Linked DNA regions of Homo sapiens: region 1 is linked to region 2. Evidence: fine-mapped expression QTL. A gene starts in region 2. The other region holds a variant in brackets. All regions are shown on one strand. Distances are from middle to middle.

Region 1 (9,607 bases), 27 kb before region 2:
CTGCTTCAGCTAGTTTAGGTCTTAGGAATGGCCCACAGCTGTCTTCTGAGATCCCAGGGCCTGGGATTTGGGTGTGACCAGGTCACCGGAGGAGGACGCTGACCCCATTGCGTCATACGGCCAGCTGTGTGAGAAGTAGACCCAGACCCCCCAACCCTTGATCTGGACTTTTTCCACAACCCAGTTCTTCCCTGGCAATTTCCTGAAAACAAGTGATGAACGGCATTGGCTGTCCTCTGCGATGACCCGCTGGCCTGTTGATCCACCCCTTGCAGCTGGTGTGAAGGGACGGGAAACAGCTGCTTGGGGACTGGAAGAGGCCCCCTGCCTGGCCTTGGAGTGGGAAGGGAGAGGTCAGGGACCTCGGCCAGACAGAAGTGGGAAATGGAGTTACGGTTTCCCCAGCGGTGGAGTAGGGTAATGAGTCAGGAGGGCTGGTGGGTGCTCAGTGCTTCATAGCATCAGGCACACAGGTGGTCCCAGGGATTCGAGAAGCCAGAAGGGGTGGCTGGGAGTGTTGCCATGTGGTTAGCACAGACGGGCCGTGGCCCAGGGAGAGGATGAAGTGGGTTTGGCAGATGCCTGTCAGTGGAGGACTGGACAGGTAAAGGGCAGTCAGAAGCTGTGGCAGGGACCTGCTGACAAGGGTTCCGCAGATGGGCAGAGCCCAATCTGAGGGTGCTTCCCACAGGCAACTGATTTAATTGTTCTGTGCCTCAGTTTCTCCATCTGTAAAATATGAATAATAATACTACTTTGCAGTATGCAAAGTGTTGTATGGGGGCTGTGTGTGTGTGTGTGTGTGTGTGTGTGTATATATATATATATATGGTTTTTTTTTTTTGAGACGGAGTCTGGCTCTGTCCCCCAGGCTGGAGTGCAGTGGCATGATCTCAGCTCACTGCAACCTCTGCCTCCCAGGTTCAAGCGATTCTCCTGCCTCAGCCTCCTGAGTAGCTGGGACTACAGGCATGCACCATTGTGTCCAGCTATGGCGATGACATTTAATCAGGAAGGGCACACCGTAGGCACTTTCCCCTCCCTGAAGGTTTTCCATGTGGGCTTTCCAAAGCCCATCTTTCCCACTCCATGTTCCTGTGCTTTTCTTTTCTTTTCTTTTCTTTTTTTTTTTTTTTTTTTTTGAGACAAGGTCTTGCTCTGTCAACCAGGCTGGAATGCAGTGGCATGATCATAACTCACTGCAGCCTGCATCTCCTGGACTCAAGAGATACTCCTGCCTCAGCTTCTTGAGTAGCTGGGACTACAGGTGCATGCCAACACATCCAGCTAATTTTTGTGTTTTTTGTAGAGATGGGGTTTCGCTATTTTATTTATTTATTTAGAGACAGAGCTTCGCTCTTGTTGCCCAGGCTGGAGAGCAATGGCTTGTGAGCCACTGTGCTTGGTGGTTTCACTATTTAAAAACAAACAAACAAAAGAGATAGTGGCCAGGCACCTTGGCTCATGCCTGTAATCCCAGCACTTTGGGATGCCGAGGTGGGTGGATCACCTGAGGTCAGGAGTTCGAGACCAGCCTGGCCAACATGATGAAACCCTATCTCTACTAAAAATACAAAAAATTAGCCAGGTATAGTAGCAGTGGCTGTAATCCCAGCTACTCAGGAGGCTGAGGCAGGAGAATCACTTGAACCCAGGAGGCAGAGGTTGCAGTGAGCCAAGATTGTGCCACTGCACTCTAGCCTGGGCAACAAGAGGGAAATTCTGTCTCAAAAAAAAAAAAAAACAAAAAGAGATAGGGTCTCGCTATGTTGCGCAGGTGGGTCTTGACTCCTAGGCTCAAGCGATCCTTCTGCTTTGGCTTCCCAGAGTGCTGAGATTTCACCCTGTGCTTTTTGAACCAAAGTTCTGGATTCAATATTTGTCCTTGTTAAATATCACATTATTATATGTGGCCCAATCTTCCTCACTTTCTTACAGCCTCCATCATGTCATCCAAACAGTCACTTTCCCAGGCAGCCCCATGAATAGTCACAGCTCTGACAACCCAGGTGTTTTGTGTTTGCATTACAAACTCTTACAAGCCAAGGATCAAGCCTGTGACACTCCGCTAGCGACATTCCAGGGAGACAAGTATCCGTTGATTTGTTGATTTGGATCTTTGGTGCATCCAGCCCGCAATTCCCCATCATTCCTGCAAGAGTTTCACAACTGACCTTGGTAAAAATTTGGATGCACAATTACATCCTTTTTTTTTTTTTTTTTTTTTTTTTTGAGACGGAATCTCGCTCTGTTGCCAGGCTGAAGTGCAGTGGCGCCACCTCAGCTCACTGCAAGCTCCGCCTCCCGGGTTCACGCCATTCTCCTGCCTCAGCCTCCCGAGTAGCTGGGACTACAGGCGCCTGCCACCACGCCCGGCTACTTTTTTATATTTTTAGTAGAGATGGGGTTTCACCGTGTTAACCAGGATGGTCTCGATCTCCTGACCTCATGATCCGCCCTCCTCGGCCTCCCAAAGTGCTGGGATTACAGGCGTGAGCCACCGCGCCCAGCCTAGATGAGTTTTTAATGATCCTGTGAAGGGCTTCCAACTCTGGTCTTTCTTTCCTAAAGGCTCATAGTCCACTACATAGAGCGTCCATTTCTGATTTTCCCCAGAGATTATCAGAAAACCCAGCAGGTCTGGAATGCCTCCCCAACTCCCAGCTACCCTTGTTTTCTTGGTCACCTTCTTCTTTTTGCTTGATGTCTTTCCTGCTTCCTCCTGCCCAGCAGGCTGACATCTGACACCTGGGGATCATTCATTCCATCCAAAGTTTCAAGGTCGGCTAGGCACGGTGGCTCATGCCTATAATCCCAGTACTTTGGGAGGTCGAGGCAGGCGGATAACTTGAGGTCAGGAGTTCGAGACCAGCCTGGCCAACATGGTGAAACCTCATCTCTACCAAAAATACAAAAATTAGCCAGGCGTGGTGGTGGGCACCTGTAATCCCAGCCACTTGGGAGGCTGAGGCAGGAGATTCACTTGAACCCGGGAGGGGGAGGCTGCAATGAGCCGAGATTGTGGCATTGCACTCCAGCCTGGGTGACAGAGCGAGACTCTGTCCCAAAAAAAAAAAAAAAAAAAAAGTTTCAAGGTTTCTTTAGGGAAGAGGAAGGAGAGGCCATGTGTGGAGGGAGGTGGCTGGGTGGAGGAGAGCTCTTGGGTCCTGTTTGCTTAGACTCAAAGGCAGGCCCCAGAGGCTCCAGCCAGAGGGACAGCGCCCAGCCCCACCTTCACCCCTTTTGCAGGGTGCCTCTGACAGCTGCTGCAGGAAACATGGCCAAGTTTGCCCTGAATCAGAACCTGCCCGGTGAGTGTGCAAAAAGAGAGATGTGTGTGTGTGTGCGCATGCACAGAGAAACGCTTGATGCCCTTGTGTGTGGACGCAGCCTACAGCCCTAGAGTGCAGTCCTCTCCAATGTCATGAGCCTGCTTTAAACCACCTATGGCATCAATCATGGCCGGGTGCGGTGGCTCATGCCTGTAATCCCAGCACTTTGGGAGGCCACGGTGGGCGGATCACTTGAGATCAGGAGTTTGAGACCAGCCTGGGCAACATGGTGAAACCCTGTCTCTACTAAAAATACAAAAATTAGCCAGGCACGGCTCGGTGTGGTGACTCATGCCTGTAATCCCAGCACTTTGGGAGGCCGAGGCGGGCAGATCACAAGGTCAGGAGGTCAAGACCATCCTGGCTAACACGGTGAAATCCCATCTCTACTAAAAATACAAAAAATTAGCCGGGCATGGTGGTGCCCCTGTAGTCCCAGCTACTCGGGAGGCTGAGGCAGGAGAATGGCTTGAACCCGGGAGGCGGAGCTTGCAGTGAGCAGAGATTGTGCCACTGCACTCCAGCCTGGGCGACAGAGCGAGACTGCGTCTCAAAAAAAAAAAAAAAAAAAAAATTAGCCAGGCATGGTGGCGCGTGCCTGTAGTCCCAGCTACTCAGGAGGCTGAGGCAGGAGAATTGCTGGAACCTGGGAGGCAGAGGCTGCAATGAGCCAAGATCGCACTACAGCACTCCAGTCTGGGCAACAGAGCAAGACTCCGTCTCAAAAAAAAGAAAAAAACAAAACAAAAAACACCCCACCTATGGCACTAATCGCAAGTGGACTATACCCCCTGCCACCCCAGGTAGCCCTCAAACCAGGGAAGTGTGGCCCTTGTGCGTCCATTCCTCTTCCCCCTGCCTTCTTTACTCTGCTCGGGACACCCTGGTCTCCATCTCGCTGTGACTCCAGCTGACCCTCCTCCCTCCTACCCCAGGGTATTTCCATGGGCTGTTTTCTTCTAGAAACCTTTTCCCAGCTGCTTCCTCCTCATCGTGCAGGGCTTCCCCTCGCCAACCTTTTTTTTTTTTTTTTTGAGACAGGGTCTCACTCTGTCACCCAGTCTGGAGTGCAGTGGTGCAATCTCGGCTCACTGCAACCTCTGCCTCCCAGGCTCAAGTGATCCTCCCACCTCAGCCTCCTGAGTAGCTCACCATTATGCACAGCTATGTATATATATGTATATGTGTATATATATATTTTTGGAGATGGGGTCTCACTTTGTTGCCCAGGTTTGTCTCGAACTCCTAAGCTCTAGCGATCCACCCGCCTCGGCCTCCCAAAGTGTTGAGATAGAGGCGTGAGCCACTGCGCCCGGCCAGGGCTACTTTTTTTTTTTTTTGAGAGGTTCTCTTCTGTCGCCCAGGCTGGAGTGCATTGGTGCGATCTCGGCTCACCTCAAACTCCGCCTACCAGGATCAAGTGATTCTCCTGCCTCAGCTTCCGGAGTAGCTGGGATTACAGGCGCGCGCCACTACCGCCCAGCTAATTTTCGTATTTTTAGCAGATACTGGGTTTCACCATGTTGGCCAGGCTGGTCTGGAACTCCTGACCTCAGGTGATCCGCCTGTGCCGGCCTCCCAAAATGCTGCGACTACAGGCGCGAACCACACGCCGGGCCAGGGCTCCACTCCACAGGAAAGTCCCCTCACAGGAAAGCTTCCCTGGCAACCAAACGCTAAATCGGGCCTCCTCCGTTTATTCC[CTG/G]TTATTATTACCATTGCCGTAGGCATCGTTTGGAAGGATGCTTATCTGCTTTCTACAGGAGGACAGGGATGTTTGTCTTGCTCACTGCTGTGTCCCCCGGGCCTAGAAACTTGCTTAGCACAGAGTAGGTGCTCATTAAACAAGCGATTGAGTTAATACTTGGGTACAGATAGGTGTGAAGCGTGGGCATGGGTGGGGGACACGCTCGGTTTGTTTAGTATCTCCCGGGTTTCCCCGTTCTGATGCGCCCTCCCCGTGCCCCCGTCGTGCCTCCAGACCTGGGCGGCCCCCGCCTGTGCCCGGTCCCCGCCGCCGGGGGCGCACGCAGCCCGAGCTCGCCCTACTCGGTGGAGACGCCCTACGGCTTCCACCTGGACCTGGACTTCCTCAAGTACATAGAGGAGCTGGAGCGTGGCCCCGCTGCCCGCCGCGCCCCGGGACCCCCGACCTCGCGCCGTCCCCGCGCGCCCCGGCCCGGCCTCGCGGGCGCACGTAGCCCAGGCGCCTGGACATCCAGCGAGTCCCTGGCCAGTGACGACGGTGGAGCACCGGGCATACTCTCCCAGGGCGCGCCCTCGGGGCTCCTGATGCAGCCGCTGTCGCCGCGCGCGCCCGTGCGCAACCCGCGCGTCGAGCACACGCTCCGGGAGACCAGCCGGCGGCTGGAGCTGGCGCAGACACACGAGCGCGCGCCCAGCCCCGGCCGCGGGGTCCCGCGCAGCCCACGCGGGTCCGGCCGCAGCAGCCCCGCCCCTAACCTTGCCCCTGCTTCGCCCGGCCCTGCCCAACTGCAGCTGGTGCGCGAGCAGATGGCCGCGGCGCTGCGGCGCCTGCGCGAGCTCGAGGACCAGGCGCGAACGCTGCCCGAGCTGCAGGAGCAGGTGCGCGCGCTGCGCGCCGAGAAGGCGCGGCTGCTGGCCGGGCGCGCGCAGCCCGAGCCGGACGGGGAGGCTGAGACGCGCCCGGACAAGCTCGCCCAGCTGCGGCGGCTCACCGAGCGCCTGGCCACCTCCGAGCGCGGCGGCCGTGCCAGGGCCAGCCCCCGGGCTGACAGCCCAGACGGCCTGGCTGCAGGGCGCAGCGAGGGCGCGCTCCAGGTCCTCGACGGGGAGGTCGGGAGTCTCGATGGGACGCCCCAGACCCGGGAGGTGGCCGCCGAGGCCGTGCCCGAGACCCGAGAAGCGGGTGCCCAGGCCGTGCCGGAGACCCGGGAGGCCGGCGTGGAGGCTGCCCCCGAGACCGTGGAGGCGGACGCGTGGGTGACCGAGGCGCTGCTGGGGCTGCCTGCGGCCGCCGAGCGCGAGCTAGAGCTGCTGCGCGCCAGTCTGGAGCACCAGCGCGGGGTGAGTGAGCTTCTGCGGGGCCGGTTGCGGGAGCTGGAGGAAGCCCGCGAGGCTGCGGAGGAGGCAGCGGCGGGGGCCCGGGCCCAGCTACGCGAGGCCACCACCCAGACCCCGTGGAGCTGTGCCGAAAAGGCCGCGCAGACCGAGTCCCCGGCAGAGGCGCCCTCCTTGACTCAGGAGAGCTCGCCCGGATCCATGGACGGAGACAGGGCCGTGGCGCCCGCGGGTGAGTCCCGACCCCGTCGCTGGGCCCTGGCTTACTCGGCGCCGGACTCGAACTCAGTGCCCTCATCTCATCCCCGCCAGGCATCCTCAAATCCATCATGAAGAAGAGAGACGGCACACCTGGTGCCCAACCCAGCTCCGGACCCAAGAGCCTGCAGTTTGTTGGGGTCCTCAACGGAGAGTGAGCGCCTTTCCCCTCCTGTGGCAGCTTCTGCCGGGACATAGACTGGGGTTGGAACCCCAGCTCTGCCCCTCTACTGGCAGCGTGGTCTGGGCAATCCTCAGTTTCCTCATCGTTAAATGGGAACGGCCACACCCACATCGCAGGACTCCAGAACGAGCCCACAGGGGAGGTTTAGCAGACACCTCCCACCCTGCCCCCAGGTACGAGAGCTCCTCCAGCGAGGACGCCAGCGACAGCGATGGCGACAGCGAGAACGGTGGCGCCGAGCCCCCGGGTAGCTCCTCGGGCTCCGGGGATGACAGCGGCGGGGGATCCGACTCGGGCACCCCTGGCCCTCCCAGCGGCGGGGACATCCGGGACCCTGAGCCCGAGGCGGAGGCAGAGCCTCAGCAGGTGGCACAGGGGAGGTGAGCGGCGCTCGCTAGTTGTTTGGAGAGGAGGCGGCTGCCCTCCTCCTGGTCGGCGCTGTCCCCGATCCATCCTGAGTCTCTCCTGGCCTCCTCTGCAGGTGCGAGCTGAGCCCGCGTCTGAGGGAGGCGTGCGTAGCGCTGCAGCGGCAGCTGAGCCGGCCCCGCGGAGTAGCCAGCGACGGCGTGAGTGCCCCGGGAGCGCAGCACCAGGGAGTGGCGTGGGAGCCTCCAAGGACCTCTGACGCCCACTTAGGGGAGCACACCGGGTTCCATCCCTTCCCGCCAGGCACCTCGCCTGACCCCAGGCTCTCCGAAGGGATCTCCTTCCCAGGACAGCGCCGATCTTTCCTTGGTTTCCCCAAAAAGGCCCGGCCCCAGCCCCACTCCCGGACTCCCCAAGGGCAAGCGTTCATTGCCTTTCCCCGTTCCATGTTCTCCCGCAAATTCTTCCCTGGAAGGAAAGGACCCCCTTCCCCCGTGTTTGCCCTCCGATAGGGGTGTGGCCCCAGCCCTCCATCTGGGTTCGCATGGCTCCCCACCTGGACGAGGAGTGACCTTCCTTACTTGCCTGGAAACGCCAAATGGGTCTCTTCCCAGTCCCGCCCCTCCCCAGCTCCCCCACCACGGCGCCGCCGTGGACCATCGCCGATGTTATCTTGGCCCCTGTCCCTTGCAGGGCGCAGTGCGCCTCGTGGCCCAGGAGTGGTTTCGAGTGTCCAGCCAGCGGCGCTCTCAGGCGGAGCCCGTGGCCAGGATGCTGGAAGGGGTGAGGCGCCTGGGACCCGAACTGCTGGCGCACGTGGTGAACCTGGCGGATGGCAACGGGAACACGGCCCTGCACTACAGTGTGTCCCACGGGAACCTGGCCATCGCAAGCCTGCTCCTGGATACGGGTCAGAGCCAAGGGAGGGTGGGTGGGACACCAGGAAATGGGTGGGGGGAGAGGGCAGGGGCTGACCTAGGCTCAAAGACTCTGGAGAGGAAAGCAGAGAATGGCTGTCCAGCACAGGGCACCACTCCTCCTTGAGTTTATTTTATTTTATTTTAATTTTATTATTTTATTTTATTTTATTTTATTTTATTTTATTTTTGAGACGGAGTTTCACACTGTCACCAGGCAGGAGTGCAGTGGCGCGATCTCGGCTCACTGCAACCTCCGCCTCCCAGGTTCAAGCGATTCTCCTGCCTCAGCCTCCCGAGTAGCTGGGACTACAGATGTGCGCCACCATGCCCAGCTAATTTTTGTATTTTTAGTGGAGACGGGGTTTCACCATGTTGGCCAGGATGGTCTTGATCTCCTGACCTCGTGATCTGCCTGCCCCGGCCTCCCAAAGTGCTGGGATTACAGGCCTGAGCCACTGCGCCCAGCCAACCTCCTTGGGTTTTAAACCTCTTCCTGTCTGGGTTCCCAAAGGCCTTCTGCCCTCTGAGCCAGGCATGGTGGCTCATGCCTTTAACCCCAGCACTTTGGGAGGCCGAGGTGGGCAGATCACTTGAGGTCAGGAGTTCGAGACCGGCCTGGCCAACATGGCAAAACCCCATCTCTACTAAAAATACAAAAATTAGCTGGGTGTGGTGGTACATGCCTGTAATTCCAGCTACTCAGGAGGCTGAGGCACGAGAATTGCTTGAACCTGGGAGGCAGAGGTTGCAGTGAGCTGAGATCGTGCTACTGCACTCCAGCCTGGGCGACAGAGTGAGGCTCAGTCTCAGAAACAAAAACAAAACAAAACAAAAAAGCAGAAACTAGCTGGGCGTGGTGGTGGGAACCTGTAATCCCAGCTATTCGGGAGGCTGAGGTGCGAGGATTACTTGAACCCAGGAGGCAGAGGTTGCAGTAAGCCAAGAGTGAGCACCACTGCACTCCAGCCTGGGCCACAATGCAAGACTCCATCTCAAAAAAAAAAAAAAAAAAAAAAAAAAAAAGAGGCCTTTTGGCCCCACCATACCCCTAGTTCTGCCCTGAGGCTCCTCCTACTTTGCAGCTGGAGGGAATACACAGTTCTGGACTTAGGTAAACCTCAGTTTAGGGGCATTATTTAATCTTGCTTGTGAAATGGGGTTGGCAAGGCCTCCCTCCCTGGGTACCTATGATAATACAGGTAGTACGAGATCAGTAAATGGCCAGCATGTGCTCTGTCCCTGAATCTCCAGCTGGAGCACTCACCGAGTTCCTGAGCCCCAGTGTCCAGCCTGGAGGGGAGGTACTCACCAGGCAGGGCTCTGACTCCTCCTGGGATGGGGCACTGTGCCCCACCCACCTCCAGCTGCTTGCCCTGATAAACTGGGCACAAAGGGTCTGGTGGGTGGTAAACAAATCGCTGTCCACCAGGAGCCCCCTCCCTCCAGGTACCCTCCTGCAGGTTCAGAAACCTCTGAGTCAGCCTTTGGGCACCTCTGGTACTAAC
Region 2 (9,725 bases):
ACAGATGAAGTCCGGGGTCCCTCCAAGGGTCCTGTGAGAAACTGAGACATTACTGTTGATATAATTATGAATTCTTATTTTATTTATTTATTTTGAGACAGTCTCACTCTTATTGCACAGGCTGGAGTGCAGTGGCGCGATTTCGGCTCACTGCAACCTCCACCTCCTAGGATCAAGTGATTCTCCTGCCTCAGCCTCCCAAGTAGCTGGGATTACAGGCGCATGCCACCATGCCAGGCTAATTTTGTATTTTTAGTAGAGATGGGGTTTCACCATGTTGGTCAGGCCGGTCTTGAACTCCTGACCTCATGTGATCCTCTGGCCTCGGCCTCCCAAAGTGCTGGAATTACAGGTGTGAGCCACCATGCCCAGCCATGTATTCTTCTCAGAGACAGAAGTGTATAAACCTTGGGCTCCTCTCAAAAAGCAGTTTGGTCCCTGGTTTCAGGTGTCTTCTCTTAATTAAATGGGGACTCTAATAGCATCTACTTCAGAAAGCTGTTACGAGGGTTAGTCCTCATAATTAATATTTGTAAACTCTTGGAGCCTGGCACAGAGTCAGTGTCCTGCCTACCTCCTAATAACTCCACCAGTTAGATGGTGATGACCCCTCTTGCAGAAGAGGAAATCGAGGCTCACAGAAGCCAAGTGACTGGCCTGGGCCACACAGGCAGCAGTAAGCAGAAGCAGGATTTCAAACCAGTTTTCCTGGACTCCTGTTGGGGTCTGGGCTCTACAGCCAACTCACGGTGTGGGCAGTCCCTCAGCCTTCTTGAGCCTTGGTTTCTTCACATATAAAATAGGGATGCTAGACTTGCAGTGTGCTGAGATCTGGGAGGTGATGAGGTCAGGCAGGGCCTGCTCTGTACTTAAAACTCTGTGAGGTCTGGGCGCGGTGGCTCACGCCTGTAATCCCAGCACTTTGGGAGGCCGGGGAGGGCGGATCACCAGGTCAGGAGATCGAGACCATCGTGGCTAACATGTTGAAACCCTGTCTGTACTAAAAATACAAAAAATTAGCCAGGTGTGGTGGTGGGCGCCTGTAGTCCCAGCTATTCGGGAGGCTGAGGCAGGAGAGTGGTGTGAACCCGGGAGGCGGAGCTTGCAGCTCACTGAGATCGCGCCACTGCACTCCAGCCTGGGTGACAGAGTGAGACTCTGTCTCAAAAAAAAAAAAAAGAACTCTGTGAATAGGCCAGGCGCAGTGGTGTGTGCCTGTAATCCCAGTGACTCGGGAAGCTGAGGTGTGAGGATTGCTTGAGTTCTAGACTTGTTTGAGTAACACAGCGAGACCCCGTCTCTATTAGAAATTTTTTAGGCTGGGCATGGTAGCTCACGCCTGTAATCCCAGCACTTTGGGAGGCCGAGGTGAGAGGATCACTAGGGGTCAGGAGATCGACACCAGCCTGGCCAACAGGGCGAAACCCTGCCTCTACTGAAATACAAAAGTTAGGGGCGCTGTGGCTCTCGCCTGTAATCTCAGCACTTTGGGAGGCCGAGGCGGGTGGATCGCTTGAGCCCAGAAGTTCAAGACCAGCCTGAGCAGCATGGGGAAACCCCATCTCTACAAAAAATACAAAAATTAGCCGGGTGTGGTGGTGTGCACCCGTAGGCCCAGCTACTTGAAGGGCTGAGGCAGAAGGATCTCTTGAACCTGGGAGGTCGAGGAAGCTTCACTGAGCTGAGATTGCGCCACTGCACTCCAGCCTGGGTGACAAAGTGAGACCCTGTCTCATAAATAATAAACAAGAAAGAAAATACAAAAATTAGCCGGGAGTGATGGTGCACACCTGTAATCCCAGTTACTTGGGAGGCTGAGGCAAGAGAATCACTCAAGCCTGGGAGGCGGACGTTGCAGTGAACTGAGATTGTGCCACTGCACACCAGCCTGGGTGACAGAGCAAGAGTCTGTCTCAAAAAGAAGGAACTCAGTGGAGTGGTCCTTGTTGTCACCTTCTGATTCACTGGAGTCCAGCACCAGAGTGTGGCAAGATACCTTGTTCCCACACAGCCCCTTGCCATGCCCCCAGAGATGTGTGCATTTCCCAGGGAGGCCACTTCTGCCTTTTCCATTTCCTTGAGGCTCCTGGGAGGTCCTGTGCCTCCACCCCTGGGGCGCCTCCTCCATCACCCCACCCTCCTGCTTCCTTTCTTGCTTAGGCTGTGAAGTGTGTGAGCTCCACAGGCTCAGGTGGGTGGGGTGAGAGGGGAGGGTGCTCGTCCTGGACTTGCCGGCACAGGGTCTCCTGGGGGCTCCCTCTTGGCCAGCTCTGGGCCAGAGATGCGTTTTGCAGTTGCCATTTGCGCATGGATTCTCAGCCCCACCAGCCTGAGTCTTCCTGAGGGCGGTGCCCCATCTTCCTGGCTCTGCGCCCACACAGTAGCGCCTGCCATGCAGTTCTTGCCCAGTCTGAGGCAGGAATAGCTGGAGGCCATTGTCACCTGATCGCTTGGCCCTTTTGCCAGCATCCTGTTTTGAGGGGCAGCAGGAATGGGGGTGGGGGCCTTGTGTACGCTGGAGACCAAAAGTGGGAAGGGAGGAGCCCAGCTCTCCACAGTGGGTTCTGGGCCTGGGGGCCACAGCAGGGGGTTCATACAGGGCTCAGGGGAGAGAGGAGGCTTGCTAGCTCCCACCTGGCGTTGGCTGATCCTCTGAGGGGCTGCGTTGGAGGGGTTGGCATTCTGGAACACCCTGCTGTCTGTCCTGCAGGTCCAGAAAGTCCCTGTGGGTGTGTTTGTCCCGGGGCAGGTGTGGGCTCCCTCAGATCTTTCCACACTGTTCTTTGGAAACCCTCACTGAAGTCTTTCCCTCCTCCAGCTCTGCTGTAGCTGCCACTGAGAAGAAGGCGGTGACTCCAGCTCCTCCCATAAAGAGGTGGGAGCTGTCCTCGGACCAGCCTTACCTGTGACACTGCACCCTCACGGCCACCCGACTACTTTGCCTCCTTGGATTTCCTCCAGGGAGAATGTGACCTAATTTATGACAAATACGTAGAGCTCAGGTATCACTTCTAGTTTTACTTTAAAAAATAAAAAAATAGAGACAGAGTCTCACCATGTTTCCCAGGCTGATCTTGAACTCCTGGCCTCAAGCGATCCTCCTGCCTTGACCTCCCAAAGTGCTGGGATTACAGGCATGAGCCACCACACCTGGCCTGATTTTATTTTTATTTTTTAGACCTTCCCACTGAGGCCTCTGCTTGACCTTGGTCACCCTGTAGCTCAACGGGGAAGGCAAAGGACAGTGAGGGCTGCTTACAGGGAAGGCAGACCTAGGGCAGATCAGGAAAGGCCTCCCTGAGCCAGAAACCATTATGCTGGGGCTGTGGGATGAGAATGAGTTAGCTCCAGAAGGAAGGCAGCTGGTTCCTGGGGAGGAGATAGAAATCTGGCTGCAGGAGCCAGAGTTTTCGCGCTTGTCACCCAGGCTGGAACGCAACGGCACGATCTCAGGTCACTGCAACCTCTGCCTCCTGGGCTCAAGCAATTCTGCCTCAGCCTCCCGAGTAGCTGGGACTACGGGTGTGCACCACCATACCCGCTAATTTTTTTTTTTTTTTGTAGAGATGGCCAGGCTGGTCTCAAATTCCTGACCTCAGGTGATCCGCCCGCCTTGGCCTCCCAAAGTGTTGGGATTACAGGTGTGAGCCACCACGCCTGGCCCCTGATTTTAAGCAATACCCAGCTTACTTGGATTTTGGGGTGAAGTCAGTGCTGAGTCTCCCAACTCTGTTGGCACTCCAGGGGTGGGACAGACACTGTCCCTGGGTGCAGAGGCCCTGGAGACAGCACTGCCCTTTCCCCCAAAGGCCAGGCTCTGACCTTGAGAGTGGTGGGAGTGGGTGATCCTTCTGGGAGGTTGGACTCCCAGGACCGCTGGCTGTTGGGGAGCATTGATTGTGAAGACCAGTCAGGTGGGGTAAGGGGTGTATGTGCGGACACTCAGTAGGCCAGCCACAGACTTCTCACTTCTTTTTTTTTTTTGAGACAGAGTTTCGCTCTTGTTGCCCAGGCTAGAGTACAATGGCGCGATCACGGCTCACTATAACCTCTGCCTCCTGGGTTCAAGTGATTCTCTTGCCTCAGCCTCCCGAGTAGCTGGGATTACAGGCGCCTGCCACAAGCCCAGCTAATTTTTGTATTTTTAGTAGAGACGGGGTTTCGCCATGTTGGCCAGGCTGGTCTCAAACTCCTGACCTCAAGTGATCCGCCCACCTCTGCCTCCCGAAGTGTTGGGATTACAGGCGTGAGCCACCGCGCCTGGCCTAACTTCCATCTCTTGAGGGCTCCCACAGCCACTTCTCACATGAACCTTCCTCAGCACCTTCCCACTGAGGCTCCTGCTTGACCATGGTCACCCTGCAGCTCAACGGGGAAGGCAGAGGACAGTAAGGGCTGCTCACAGGGAAGGCAAACCTAGGGCAGATCAGGAAAGGCCTCCCTGAGCCAGATCCCATTATGCTGGGGCTGTGGGATAAGAATGAATTCGCCCCAGAAGGAAGGCAGCTGGTTCCTGGGGAGGAGACAGAAATCTGCAAAGGGAGGGTGTCCAAGTCTGGCTGCAGGAGCCACCCAGTGACCCTACGCAGGGGAGTGTCATGGCTTCCCCAGGGCACAGCCCCAGACCCTTCAGCAGCTAAAAAAGATCAGCTGTGGACCAAGAGGGTGCTGAGACCGCCCTGCCCTCTGGAAGGGGAAAGGCCACGGCTACAGGCAGCAGGTACCAGTGTCCCAGAGTGGGTCCTACAAAGGCTAACACCTTCCTGGAGAAGGTGGGATTCTGCTTGGGGCAAAAGGATGAATCAGATTCAGAAAGGTCAGGAGGGAAGGAAAGACTAGGCAGGGTGTGCAGAGGCCACAAGGAGGGCAAGACCCTAGGCAAGGCATGCCGCTGACGGCATCTGAACCAAGTTTTATGACCACAACTTTTTTTTTTTTTTGAGACAGAGTCTCACTCTGTCACCCAGGCTGGAGTTCAATGATGTGGTCTCGGCGCACTGCAACCTCCGCCTCCCGGGTTCAAGCGATTCTCCCATCTCAGCCTCCCTAGTAGCTGGGACTACAGGAGCATGTTACCACACCCGGCTAATTTTTGTATTTTTGGTAGAGACGGGAGTTTTACTATGTTGGCCAGGCTGGTTTAGAACTCCTGACCTCGTGATCCGCCTGCCTCGGCCTCCCAAAGTGCTGGGGTTAACAGGCGTGAGCCAGCGCGCCGGCCAACTTTTCTAACAAATGGGGTCTCACTGTCACCCACGCTGGAGTGCAGCCCCAAGTGATTCTCCCACCTCAGCCTCCTGAGTAGCTGGGACTACAAATTAGAGCCACCATGCCCAGCTAATTTTCTTTTTTCTTGAGGCGGGCGGGGACTTGCTGTGTTGCCCAGGCTGATCTCGAACTCCTGGGCTCAAGCGATCTGCCCGCCTCTGCTTCCCAAAATGCTGGGATCACACACGTGACCCACCGCGCCCGGCCTTTATTATTAAATTTAATTAATTAATTGATTTCCTTTCCTTTTTCCCCCCCAAGCAACCCGACTCCGAGAATGGACGTTTCATTTATTCATTTACTCACCAAATGTTTACTAAGAGCCTACTATGAGTCAAGCACTATGTGTCAGATCCTGAGAATAAAGCAGTGAGCAACAGAAGATCCCTGCCCTCCAGTAGCTAGCATTCTATGGGGACTCGGACAACAAACCAGAATAAGTAAATAAAATAAATTACCTGTCGGCGCCACAAAAGCAGTGGGATGAGGGAGGAAATGCGGAGTGCCTGAGGGGCGTGGCTGCCATATTAAAGAAGATCACGAGGCAGTAACATTTGCAGCAGTCCTCATTTGGAACGGGAAATAATGCAAATGAACACCAACAAATTCCTTCCCATCCCCAGAAGTTTCTAACTTCAAGCGGGCTCCATACCTTTCAACTGATCTGGTCACTGGGGAAAGTGGGGACGGGCCTCTAATTCTCTTTTCCCTGCTATTCTGACATTTACGGTACGCGTAGCCGCGGGCGCCGCAGAACTCAGGGGCTTGGGCCCCGCCCCAACCCCGCGCGTGCGCGTGCGCAGGGATAAGAGAGCGGTCTGGACAGCGCGTGGCCGGCGCCGCTGTGGGGACAGCATGAGCGGCGGTTGGATGGCGCAGGTTGGAGCGTGGCGAACAGGGGCTCTGGGCCTGGCGCTGCTGCTGCTGCTCGGCCTCGGACTAGGCCTGGAGGCCGCCGCGAGCCCGCTTTCCACCCCGACCTCTGCCCAGGCCGCAGGTGAGTGACGCCCCGCAGCGCGGGCTCCCACCCCTCGCGAGGCTTCGCCCCGCCGCCGCGCACCGACAACGCCTAGTCACTGGCTGCACCGCACGTCAGTTCATGACACTCCCCCAGCACGTGGACTTGGACTTCATCGCTTGTGGGAAGGCGCGCACTGGTGCTAGGAAGACCCCATGCTGGGGGAGGGGAGGAGGGTGTCTCCACCTGCCTTTAACGGTTTTGCTCCGGCCCTGCACACCGTCTCCACACCTGCTGTGCCCTGTCGTCCCCCATTGTCACCTCCAAGCCGCCCTTCATACCAGCGTGGTCAGGAAAGCTCTTAGCAGGCTCAGATTGTCCGACCGCTAATCACGCAGGACGGGTCACCTGGTGCCTCTCGCACCTTTGCCTTCCAAACCCTCGCGCCCAGGCCTTGTGACCGTTCCGCAACCGTCCCTGCCCTCCCAGTCTCTCCTCCTTTGTCCTCCATCCTTAGAGAACGCGAGGTCTCTCCCCCCCATGCTACTGCAGGCTCTCGCAGAGACTGGGGTCACAAGTTGAATATACCCCCGTGGACGTGTTCGCCCTGGCCTAAGAGGTATTGGTGGCCAGTGGGGACGGGCTCCCTCTCTGATACCCCTAGAGGCAGCTGGAGGGTTGGAGTGGCCTCCCTGTGCACTCAGGCACTCCCAACTTGCAGCCCTGGGCTCAGGCTCACACACTTTCCCAGCTCCTTTGTGCATTCCGCACTTCTAGGTCCCTGGACTCATCCCAAAGTCCCTGACATTCACGTTAAATGTTCCTGGGTTTTTTTTTGTTTGTTTTTTTTTAAGGAGGCAGCGTTCACGTTAACCAAGTACAAAAGTTTTTGTTTTTTTTTTTTTGAGTCTCCCTCTGTCGCCCTGGCTGGAGTGCAGTGCAATGTTGGCTCACTGCACCCTCCGCCTCCCGGGTTTAAGCAATTCTCATGCCTCAGCCTCCCGAGTAGCTTGGGACTACAGGCACCGTCACCATGCCCGGCTAATTTTTGTATTTTTAGTAGAGATGGGGTTTCACCATGTTGGCCAGACTGGTCTCGAACTCCTGACCTCAAGTGTTCTGTCCGCCTCAGCCTCCCAAAGTGCTGGGATTACAGGACAAAACTCTATACACAGTCTCTTTTTTCTCAGGATGTTGAGGTAGGGATTCCCAGCATACCCCGTTTACAGGTGAGGAAACTGAGGCCAGGAGAGAAAGTCACTGGTCACTGTAACTCCTGTCAGGCTTACACCCTATGAGGCGGGGACTGCTGTGCTCTACTGTCCACTTTGCAGAGGGATACACACTCCCGCAGTCCAGCGAAGGGAGGTCAGAGGTGTCAGGGCTGTGGAAGTCTGCGCCTGGGTGGAGAGCCACACCTGGAGGCTGCCAGATCTCCCGGGGGCGGGGAAGGAAGCAGGCACCGGTTTGTCCACAGCTCTTCTGGGATCCATAGAGCTCAGGGACCCTGTGGCAAGTAGGTGCAATTAGGCCTGAAGGCCGAGGAGGGGCTGGCAGTGGGGAGTGGGGGGTTGGAGGCTCATGGCTGGTGGGTAAAGGTGGAAGAGGTTAAAGGCCTTGGCAGAGTGAAGCTAAGCCAGGGTGGCGGATTTGCCACCTCCCCTGGCCGCACCCAGGAGGAAGCCGTAAAGGCCACTCCCTTCCTCTGTCCCTTGGCCCAGGTTGCGGGCCCCTCCGTGCCCCTCCAGGTCGGCAAGCAGCTGAGCTTCCCTGCTCAGAATCTAGGACAGCCGGGATCTTCTCTGGACCCAGCTTGGACCCTTATGTGACCTGTGTCCACTTATAATCAGGCACTGCCCTGGGTTTAGGCGGCCAGGTCACAGCCCTGACCTCCACAGAATGTCCAGTCTGTGGGTGGACAGGCATGACCAGGGCTTTAAGGACAGTTGTTAGACATGGGAGGCAGTGCTTCCTAGGTCTCCAAGAGGGACATGAGAACCCTCCCAGGAAATCAGCTGAGATCTGAAAATTGAGGGGAAAACACAGGGTGTAGGGAGGAGAGAGGGAAAGGCAAGTCTCTGGTGTCCTAATGGACCTTGGGGCCTGGGGCCTGGGGCTCTGGTGAGGAGCTGACACATTTAGGATGGGGAGAGTGATAGGTCTGGGAGGAATTCAGGAGGCGGGGCAACAGGACTTGGTGACTGAGCAGATTTTCTACCCAGTGCCTCAGTTTCCCACCCACTGCCTCAGTTTCCCTTTTGCTACGCAGAGGAGATAGACCCTCCCTGCTGACCTGAGCCCGGGAGCCTGACCCAGGGCATGTGGAAAAATGGCCCGTCCCTCAGTCTCTTTAACCACTGAGTTTGGAGGTCTCCCTGGCAGATCATCTCGCTATGAGGAGCCTGGTGAAGACTCTGGGATCAGCGAGACCTGAGTTCGAAGCCCAACTCCGCTACCAGCTCTTTTTTTTTTCTTTTTTGTGGTGACGGAGTCTCGTTCTGTCGCCCAGGCTGGAGTGCAGCAGTATGATTTCGGTTCATTGCAACCTCCATCTCCCAGGTTTAAGCGATTCTCATGCTTCAGCCTCCCGAGTAGCTGGCATTACAGGCGTGCACTACCACGCCCGGCTAATTTTTGTATTTTTAACAGAGACGGGGTTTCCATGTAGGCCAGGCTGGTCTCGAACTCGTGACCTCAAGTGATCCACCTGCCTCGGCCTGCCAAAGTGCTGAGATTACAGGCGTGAGCCACTGCACCCAGCCTCTGCCACCAGCTGTATGGCCTCCTCTTGGTTCCTTTCTCTGTAACCTGGGGAGTGCAGTAGCACCTGCCCAGTGGGGCTCTTGAGCCCAGGAACTGCTACACTCTGAACCCCACTCGTACTAGGGGCTCAGTAACAAGCAGCCGCCAGTGTGGTTCCTATATCCCGGGACTTCGCCTGTCTCCTGCGGATCACAGCCAGTGACTACTGTGCTCTTGGAGAAAGGTCCAGCCTCCAGCTTCCCAGGCTTCATTTGCATCCATCTCGCAGGCCCCAGCTCAGGCTCGTGCCCACCCACCAAGTTCCAGTGCCGCACCAGTGGCTTATGCGTGCCCCTCACCTGGCGCTGCGACAGGGACTTGGACTGCAGCGATGGCAGCGATGAGGAGGAGTGCAGTGAGTGGCCACGCCCCTTGGCGGGGCTTACAGGGGGCGGGGCCTGAGGGTGGTTTGTCAGGGGCCAGGCACGCGGAGGTGGAGCTTGTGGGAAAGGCAGGGCCGCAGGGATGGGTGCGACTTGGGTCTGTGGGTCATAAGAAGCGGGGTCTAAGATGGGCTTGGGCTGGGCGCAGTGGCTCACGCCTGCAATCCCAGCACTTTGGGAGGCTAGGGTGGGAGGATCGATCACTTGATCCTGGGAGGTTGCCGCTGCAGTGAGCTAGGATTGTGCCAGTGCACTCCAGCCTGGGCAACAGAGTAAGACTGTCTCAGGAAAAAAAAAGAAAAAGAAAAAAAAAA

Evidence for each region. PIP is the estimated chance that this variant, and not a neighbour inherited with it, causes the effect.
Region 1: its variant is the best candidate, but not a certain one, in a credible set for the expression of CD320 in whole blood (INTERVAL, PIP 0.71).

What each region holds. Positions count from the first base shown.
Region 1 is chr19:8,331,499-8,341,105 of GRCh38, reverse strand. It overlaps KANK3 (KN motif and ankyrin repeat domains 3), which reads left to right. Exons shown (of 11, transcript NM_198471.3): 2 at 3,250-3,311; 3 at 5,314-6,606; 4 at 6,687-6,786; 5 at 6,990-7,196; 6 at 7,298-7,382; 7 at 7,876-8,092. The coding sequence starts at 3,278. Among named protein-coding and RNA genes, the nearest start is that of KANK3, 7.0 kb to the left of the region's middle. RefSeq lists an enhancer at 336-836 and silencers at 5,209-5,468, 5,569-5,618, 5,649-5,838, 5,999-6,098. The variant CTG/G (reference allele first, on the strand shown) is at 5,036.
Region 2 is chr19:8,304,689-8,314,413 of GRCh38, reverse strand. It overlaps CD320 (CD320 molecule), which reads left to right and starts at 6,056. Exons shown (of 5, transcript NM_016579.4): 1 at 6,056-6,265; 2 at 9,258-9,383. The coding sequence starts at 6,124. NDUFA7 (NADH:ubiquinone oxidoreductase subunit A7) reads left to right here. Exons shown (of 4, transcript NM_005001.5): 4 at 2,819-3,130. The coding sequence ends at 2,909. RefSeq lists enhancers at 1,871-2,473, 5,228-5,757, 5,813-6,552, 6,437-6,566, 6,553-7,293 and silencers at 5,954-6,292, 6,267-6,356.